3 separate regions of the Homo sapiens genome follow, and regions 2 and 3 are each linked to region 1. The links come from fine-mapping of genetic effects on gene expression. A gene starts in region 1. Each other region holds a variant in brackets. All regions are shown on one strand. Distances are from middle to middle. Region 1 holds the start of MAP2K5 (mitogen-activated protein kinase kinase 5). Region 2 overlaps MAP2K5 (mitogen-activated protein kinase kinase 5). Region 3 has its middle 16 kb from the start of SKOR1.

Region 1 (2,500 bases):
GGAGGCTGAGGTAGGAGAATCGCTTGAGCCCAGGAGGCAGAGGCTGCAGTGAGCCGAGATCGTGCCACAGCACTGCAGCCTGAGCGACAGAGTGAGGCCCTGTCTCAAAATAAATTAATGAAACAGTGTGCTCAAACATGGTAAGTTAAAGTTGTCCTTTTTCCCTTTCTCAGCTGGTCACCAAGTTCAGAGAACTCAGTAGAAAAACAAGGCTGGAATCTGTCCAAGGACATTCCCCGAAACACTTGGGGGGAAAAAACCTCTCTTCTAGATTCAGCAGTTTGCATTTGCGTGGTTGTGTCTATATGTGTGTCCCAGCCCGGGCCATGAGCTCTCTGAGGGCAGGGGTTCAGTCAGATTGATCTATCTCCCCAGGGTCCTAGACATTTGCCAGGTTTTAGTGGTTGCAATTTATCAATGCTGTGCCTGAAGCAATAAAACTGCCTCCACAGGAAGCCAGCAGTAGCCATTGCCACTGGCTCAGGTCACCAGTGGTCAAGGTGCTGACTACTCAAGTCCCTGAGTCCCCCTTGCTGGCATCCGGACACTGAGATTACCACTCACCAGCACATCCCTGAAGAGTAACTGCGGCCCGGAGTGCACTGTCCAGTCCACCGCGCCACTATTTGGGATCTTGATGCGAATTACCAGCACCTGGTTCTCCATGGCAGGAAAGGGGCCAAGGGCTAGCCACAGCATTACAGGTTAAAGAGGCTCACATCCTGGGGTATGGGAAACCCACTGGCCGCTGGTTAGGAGGGGGCTCCAAGAGGTGACAAGGGGAGTGACGGGCAGAGGACAGAGGGTGAAAACAAGGGAATGGAGGATGAGGGGGAGGGAAGAGGGGAGGGGTGATCAGGAACGCACCCGCAGGCACCGAGCCTGCCCAGGCTGTCGGGGGTCTGAGGTGTCTCCCGGGGAGGGTGCACCGGGAAGCGGGCAAAGGCCCGCAGGAACTAGCGGAGGTCGGAAGGTTCTGGAGTTGAGCGAACGCTATGGTGAAGGTCTCTGCCGCCGTGTGGGTATGAGGAGGCAGCAGGGCAAGGACTCGGTTTGGGGGAGATACAGCGGCAGGTGTCCACCGCTCGTCAGTGGACTAGGAGAGGGTCCTCGACTGGAGGGGACTCAGTCCGGGGCTATTAAGAAAGAGCCCCAGGGCCGCCACACCACGGAGAGTCCCCGCGGGAGGTTCAAGGGGCGAGTCTTCTGCCCCACCCGGAGACACAGGGCGCGGCGCGCGCAGGCTGAGCTCCGGCCACCCGAGGCCGCGCGGACTGGCGGCGGCTGCGGCGGCGGCGACGGCGGTAGCGGCGAGAGGAGGAGGAGGAAGGCGGCGGCGACACTGTTACTCCGGAACCAAAACGCGCGGCGCCGGAACCCCGGGAGCCGACGAGCGGGACCCGCCTCCCGCGGCGCCATGTTGGAAAAGGGCAGCAGCTCCCGGGAGGATGCGCCCCCGGCGTGGGAAGCCGAGGAACCGGCGCGCGGCGCGCGGCGCGTGGCGCGTGGCGAGTCGGGGAGAGACTGGTCTTGCTCGCTCAGGAGACCCTCATCGCCCACAGAGCGCCCGCGGCGACCCGGTCACGGCCCTTCCATTTCCTGACCCTGCTTAATGACAGCGAGGTGAAAACATCTACCAAACGAAGGGTAAAAGGCTGGAGTCCGCCAAAAGCCAATTTAAGGCTTAACATTGCAGACCGTTTGTCTTTACAAAAGCTTCAAAGACGGGGCTGCAGCTCCCGGTTATCCCCACTTTGTCAAGCCATGAATCTGAATGTTCGTGGGGTTGTGTGCATCGAATCAGCAAGAGCAAGGCAAGAATTCAAGAAATAGTTCTTTTTTATCCCCCCTTCCAAGTCACAGGTTCAGAGGATCATCATCTTTCTCCCACATTAGCAAAACATATTTGCATTTTTCAGTGAAGTTCTTTACCGCACGAGTGCCCTAAAATAGCAAACAGTTCCCTGTTCAAAAGCAATAGTAAAGAAATTCGCCGAAGAGTTTAATTGCCTGGGGACAGCTGCAGTAGTCGCATCATCGTCTCTTATTAAACTGTTGCAGAAATATTCGGTCTAGTCCATGTATTTTCAACTAAATAGCACTGCTTACGCAGTTGGTGATATGGTGATATCACGGAAGTAGCAATAAACCTTGGTTATCTTTTTTTTTTTTTTTTTTGAGACGGAGTCTCGCTCCGTCGCCCAGGCTGGAGTGCAACGGCGCGACCTCTACTCACCACAACCTCAGCCTCCCGGATTCAAGCGATTCTCCTGCCTCAGCACTACCACCCCCACCAGCCCCCAACCCCTGCCGAGTAACTGGGACTACAGGCGTGCGCCATCCGTGCCCGCTCATTTTTGTATTTTCAGTAGAGACTGGGTTTCACTATGTTGGCCAGGCTGGTCTCAAACTCCTGACCTCGTGATCCGCCCACCTCAGCCTCCCAAAGTGCTGGGGGGATTACAGGTGTGAGCCACCGCGCCCGGCCAACCTTGGTTAT
Region 2 (2,500 bases), 190 kb before region 1:
CCTCCAATGCTCAGCATTTCTCATCTATACAAGAGGCCTCCCTAGGGCAGAGAGGGCAAACTAGAAGAAGGGTTGTGGGGCAGAGTGGAAAGGAGAACAGGGGTATGAATAGCCAAACGAATTAAGAAGTTAAAGAGCCAGGGAGTTGGCTTATTTGTCTGCAAGTCCTAGACCTAACTGTACCCATTCCTGCCTAAAGCAAGGTACTTTGCCTCTCTGAGCCTGAGTTGGCTCACCTAGAGGCTGGAAATAAGTCCCTGCAGGTAGAATGCACAGCCTGAGTCAGGTAACAGCCTGAGACTGGAACCCTATGTGGGAAAGGTGCCAGGTGAAGCCAAGACACTATTGTTTTTCCTGTTATAGGCAGTAGTAATAAGACTGTGCTCCTCATGTTTTTTTTCTTTAGAACCCTAAACTGCATGCCAAGGAAGTTATGCAACCCAAAGGCCTAAAGGAAACTAAAACAGTGCTTTCAAATAACAAAGACCCAACCCACAAAACAATGAAACTCATACAGAATGGCTATCTCAACAAAAACCCAGCCCTTTAACCTTTATGTTGCTCCCAGGGCACTGACTGTCCCTAGTATCTTCCCAACACTCCTCCCTCTCTGCGACCTCACTGGGTACACACTGTGTCACCAGCAGGAAGAGGGGCTGCTAATGATGCTGTCAGCAGCACTGACACTGAGCTGGGGGAAAGACAAGTCTTGAAGCCGGCCCCTCCTCCCCACTTTACCCTCTGCTCATTTTATACTCTGCTCCAATTGTGGCTGGCATGTTGCTAAGAACATCCTTTTACAACCTATGATTGATAGCTGGGAAATTCTGTTTTGTGCTGCAGCCCAACATCTGATCCAGATGGGTGGCCCTTTGTACTTTTCAGAGTGGTTTCATATCCATAGTCTCATTTGATCAGCATACCTCCTTTAATCAGATAGAAGAGGTAGGCATTAGAATCCTCATTTTAGAGATGAGGAAACTGACACCTCAGAGTTACAAAGCAACAATTAAGACCTGCAGTGAGACTGTGGTAGCACCTAATTCTAATTCTAATACTCTGGCTCATGGTCCAGGGCTCCTTCCAATAGGCCACTCCTCTCAATTTGCCACTAGTGAAGACAACTCAGGTCTGGTGCCCTGATTAGACTTTAGGTTCACAGCAGCAATTCCCTGGCACTGTCCCTAGTCCTAGGAACAATCAAACCAATGTGATCTTAAGGATATATGAAAGGCTCTCATGTGTTCTAGGATCAGACTAGTGAGTGACACTTAGGATGAGATAGTTCTCAGCTTGATAAATAGAACACTGCTTTGACCCTGTGGATGCTTTGTAAGATAGTGAGTTTCTTGTCACTGGAAGTGTTCAAGCAGTGTGGATGTTTGCTTTTCAGAGACATTGTAGAGAAG[T/C]TTGATTTGATGATGTCTAAGATCCCTTCCAACTCTAAGAGTCTATGATTCACTCCTGCCTACTGCACTTGGGATTCAAAGAAACCAAACCAGTCACAGTTTTAACAGTGAGCAAATCAGCCATTCTGTTTGTCCAATTTATGAGGGGAGGCTATTTCACAGAGTGGTAGGAGTTCAAATGACATAACGTGGGCCAAAGAGAAGGTGTTATTCCATAACTCAGCCTCAGTGACACTATAAAAATACACATTTTTCTTCATGTGCTTTTTTTGAGGGCATAAGGGAGGGGTAGGAAAGGCATTTATAAAGTATCCTTTCCCAATCTTCAGCTTATAGTACAAAGCCTGTAAAATAAATGCCAACTCCACCAAAAGTCATTAGTGGTTCTAGCAACGACGCACCCCAACTTCTGTTGAAAAACTTAGGAAATAGGCCTAACGGCATCAAAGCTGCTTCTATTATTTCAGATAGAAGTAACAATTTGGTGACAACATTCTATCATGATTCAAGGAATACAGTTGTTTCCCGCCCCAACTCTGGTATAAAGGTTGTTGCTAACTAGGGAGTTCAGCATAGTATTAGAATTTTCCAACTTCCACTTGACTGATCAAGTAAAGATATATTTAGACATTCAGGAAAACCATACTGCAAAGGTAAATAGCCTCTTCTCAAATTTGACCACAGCTTTCATGTGCTTCACTTGTCAAATGTGGCAGTAATCCATTTCTTTTTTTTGTTTTTGAGACGGAATCTTGCTCTGTTGCCCAGGCTGGAGTGCAGTGGCGTGATCTCGGCTCACTGCAAGCTCCACCTCCCGGGTTCAAGCCATTCTCCTGCCTCAGCAGGGACTACAGGTGCCCGCCACCACGCCCGGCTAATTTTTTTTTTTTGTATTTTTAGTAGAGACGGGGTTTCACCATGTTAGCCAGGATGGTCTCAATCTCCTGACCTCGTGATCCGCCCACCTCGGCCTCCCAAAGTGCTGGGATTACAGGCGTAAGCCACTGCACCTGGCCATGGCAAAATCCATTTCTTAGACTCATCACCCATCAAATCTCACTGATTAACTACTCTAGACATTAGGAATCTCA
Region 3 (2,844 bases), 270 kb before region 1:
CATCCCGAGGCTTCACCTGGAGGTTCCACTGGCCTGAGTGTGCAGACACCTGGAAGCATATGCCTCCCCAAAGATGCAGGTCTGTTCAGGCAGGGCACCCGCAGCTTCCCTCAGTGAGGCTGTACCATCCATTTCACCTCACTGGCCTGACCAACCCCCTAACTGGGCTGGGCCTTGGGTAGGGGCTCTGGGTCACACTACTTTGGACCACAAGGTCCCCGCCACATCTGGAGAAGAGGGTTCCACCTCTCCTTCCTCTGCCCCAGTGGACCTGTTGGAACATCTCCAAAGCCCTGGGATTCTGTATCCTGCATTCCCCACATGTGAAAACCAAAGACAGAAGCAAGGACGATGGGCTGAGTGTGAGAGGGCCTCCTGGCCTTCAAGCCAGAGACCTAGAAGCAGAGGAGGCACCTGCCTGTCATTGTGAACTGGGGCCCCGTGAGGATCCTCCTGTCCTGGAAACACTTCCTTCTAGGCTCCCCTGAAGGTCTGAGAGGCCTGAGGCTGCCTCCAGTGAGGGTTTCGTCTCTCAGAAGCTCCAGTTAGAAAGTGAGTGGGCGATATTGAGGATTGGAGCAAGAGATTCGAGCAGGACAGTGACAGGCCCCAAGGGCCTCAGGTCTGAGGGCCCCATCTCTGCACCCTACCTTCCCTCCCTCCTACCGTCCCACACCACAGGCACCCTCCCTATGCAGGCCCTGGGCCAGGTGCTGGGATAGAGGTGAGTTAGCCTCATCCCTGCCCTCAAAGGGCTCACAGTCTATATCCAGAGAAGGAAATAAAGAAGCTGCCAGCTAGGCGTGGTGGCTCACGACTGTAATCCCAGCACTTTGGGAGGCTGAGGCAGGCAGATCACTTGAGGTCAGGTGTTCAAGACCAGCCTGACCAACATGGTGAAACCCCATCTCTACTAAAAATACACAAATTAGCCGGGCATGGTGGTGCATGCCTGTAATCCCAGCTACTCGGGAGGCTGAGGGAGAAGAATCGCTTGAACCTGGGAGGCAGAGGTTGTGAGCTGAGAGTGCACCATTGCACTCCAGCCTGGACAACAAGAGCGAAACTCTGTCTCAAAAAAAAAAAAAAAAAAAAAAAAAGGCAGCAAAGAGGAGGTGCTGTTTGAGAGGGGCCTGAAAGGAAGAATAGGAATTAGCCACATGGATGGGGTGAGGGTGGGCGGGGGTGGCTTTCCAGCAGGGAAAGAGCTCATGCTGCCTAGGCCAGTCTCAGGCACTGCAGTGTTCTAGGTCTTAGCCTTCCCGCGACCTCTGAGGGCAGGGGCAGCTTGGCCTCTGGCCCCCAAC[G/A]GTGACTAGAGGAATCACTTCAACAGGCCAAAGAGGGACCTGCCTCCGGCCAGAGGGGTGTTAGCAGGAGAACCCCTCAGGGGTCACTCAGCTCCCCATCTTCTCGACTTCAAGGCAGAGGGGAATTTATAGTTGGGGGCTGCCCCAAAGTAGGGGCCCTTGACAGGGGGTCATGAGTGAGTGAGCTCCAGGGTCTCCACAAACCCTAGAGTTGTGAACAAAATTCTGTGCGTGCATGCATGTGGGTGATGTAATTTGGGGGCAAGGATGCTCACAGGATGAACCCAAATGGTGAGAACTCTGCTCTGGGACATCAGGACTGGGAGCAGCTCCAGGACACCGTGAGGTCAACCCCTACATTGACAGATGAGGAAACAGACTCAGACAGGAGACGTGCTTTGTTCAAGATCACCCTGAAAGTTGGTCTCCAGGCCAAAGCATGCGTCTGGAGCAGTGTTTCTCAGTGCTGTTGTGGGGCGCTCTGCACCTGTATCCCTGGGGAGCTGGTCAAAGAGATCCTTGGCCCGTTCCCAAAGGTACTAACATTATCTTGGCAAACCAGAGTTTGGGAGCCTCTGTGCTAGAGGACAGGGCATGTGTCTGTGTGTACATATGTGCACATGTGTGCTGTGTGTGTGGAGTTGACTATCAGAGCTGTGGCTAAGAGCAGGGCTCTGGGTCCCAAACAGTGCTTTGCTACTTGTTGGGTGACCTTGGGTAAGTCATCTGGCCTCTCTGTGTTTCAGTTTCTTCATCTGTAAAACGGGCAGAATAATCGTATCACCATCTACCTCCTGGGATCATGGTGGGGATTAAACGAATTGATACAGTGAGCCCTAAGCACACTGCCCAGCAAGGTACCTGCTCACTTTTCCTACCGCCCTTGACTTGGGATTTGGGGCTGACAGGTTTGCTGGATGAATCTTCTCAAAATAAGGATACGCTTTAGTCTGGGTGGTGGCTGATTCACATTCCAAGGTAGTCAGCCCCGTGTGGGAGCCCCTAAGCTTTCCCCACTCTCTGAGCGCCTCTTCCTGAGAAAGTCCATCATGTGCACTGCCCGCAGTTCTCCCTGCCCTGAGCACTGGGCCAGGGTCTTCCTGGCCGGGGTCCCATCCAATTCTGTGACCATCTAACCCCAGGGAAATGGCAGGTGCTCAGAGAAAGCTGGGAGCCTGTGCCTTGAAAAGCATTACTAAAAAGATGATGAGCCGACTCTGCCCTGGGAAGCACATGATGCCTCACATAGGGTGCCCTTCCATGGGGCACTGGACTGCACATGGGCTGGGAGTCACAGCTCCACAATTTTGGCCATTTGACCCACACACATTTATTGTGCAGAGCTGAGGCCTTGTTCTTTGTACTGGGGATACAGTGTGAAAAAGACTAGAATTTCTGCCCTTGTGGAGACCCCATTCTAATGAAGGGCAGAAGAGGAAGGAGACAGAAGAGAAAATAAGTAAAATTAGTGATGTATCACACAGTTCTGAATGCAGTAGAGGAAAATGGTGCAAGCAATGGGCACAGGCGGCCCCAG

The links. PIP is the estimated chance that this variant, and not a neighbour inherited with it, causes the effect. A credible set is the group of variants that fine-mapping cannot tell apart.
Region 2: its variant is the best candidate, but not a certain one, in a credible set for the expression of MAP2K5 in whole blood (TOPMed, PIP 0.88).
Region 3: its variant is the best candidate, but not a certain one, in a credible set for the expression of MAP2K5 in whole blood (TOPMed, PIP 0.50).

Annotation. Positions count from the first base shown.
Region 1 is chr15:67,541,535-67,544,034 of GRCh38, reverse strand. MAP2K5 (mitogen-activated protein kinase kinase 5) reads right to left here and starts at 1,332. Exons shown (of 22, transcript NM_145160.3): 1 at 565-1,332. The coding sequence starts at 699. MAP2K5-DT (MAP2K5 divergent transcript) reads left to right here and starts at 1,405. Exons shown (of 1, transcript NR_186334.1): 1 at 1,405-2,500. RefSeq lists a silencer at 1,197-1,316 and enhancers at 2,190-2,239, 1,892-2,392.
Region 2 is chr15:67,729,414-67,731,913 of GRCh38, reverse strand. All of the region lies in intron 17 of MAP2K5 (mitogen-activated protein kinase kinase 5), which reads right to left. Among named protein-coding and RNA genes, the nearest start is that of SKOR1, 95 kb to the left of the region's middle. The variant T/C (reference allele first, on the strand shown) is at 1,410.
Region 3 is chr15:67,808,551-67,811,394 of GRCh38, reverse strand. No RefSeq gene overlaps it. Among named protein-coding and RNA genes, the nearest start is that of SKOR1, 16 kb to the left of the region's middle. The variant G/A (reference allele first, on the strand shown) is at 1,308.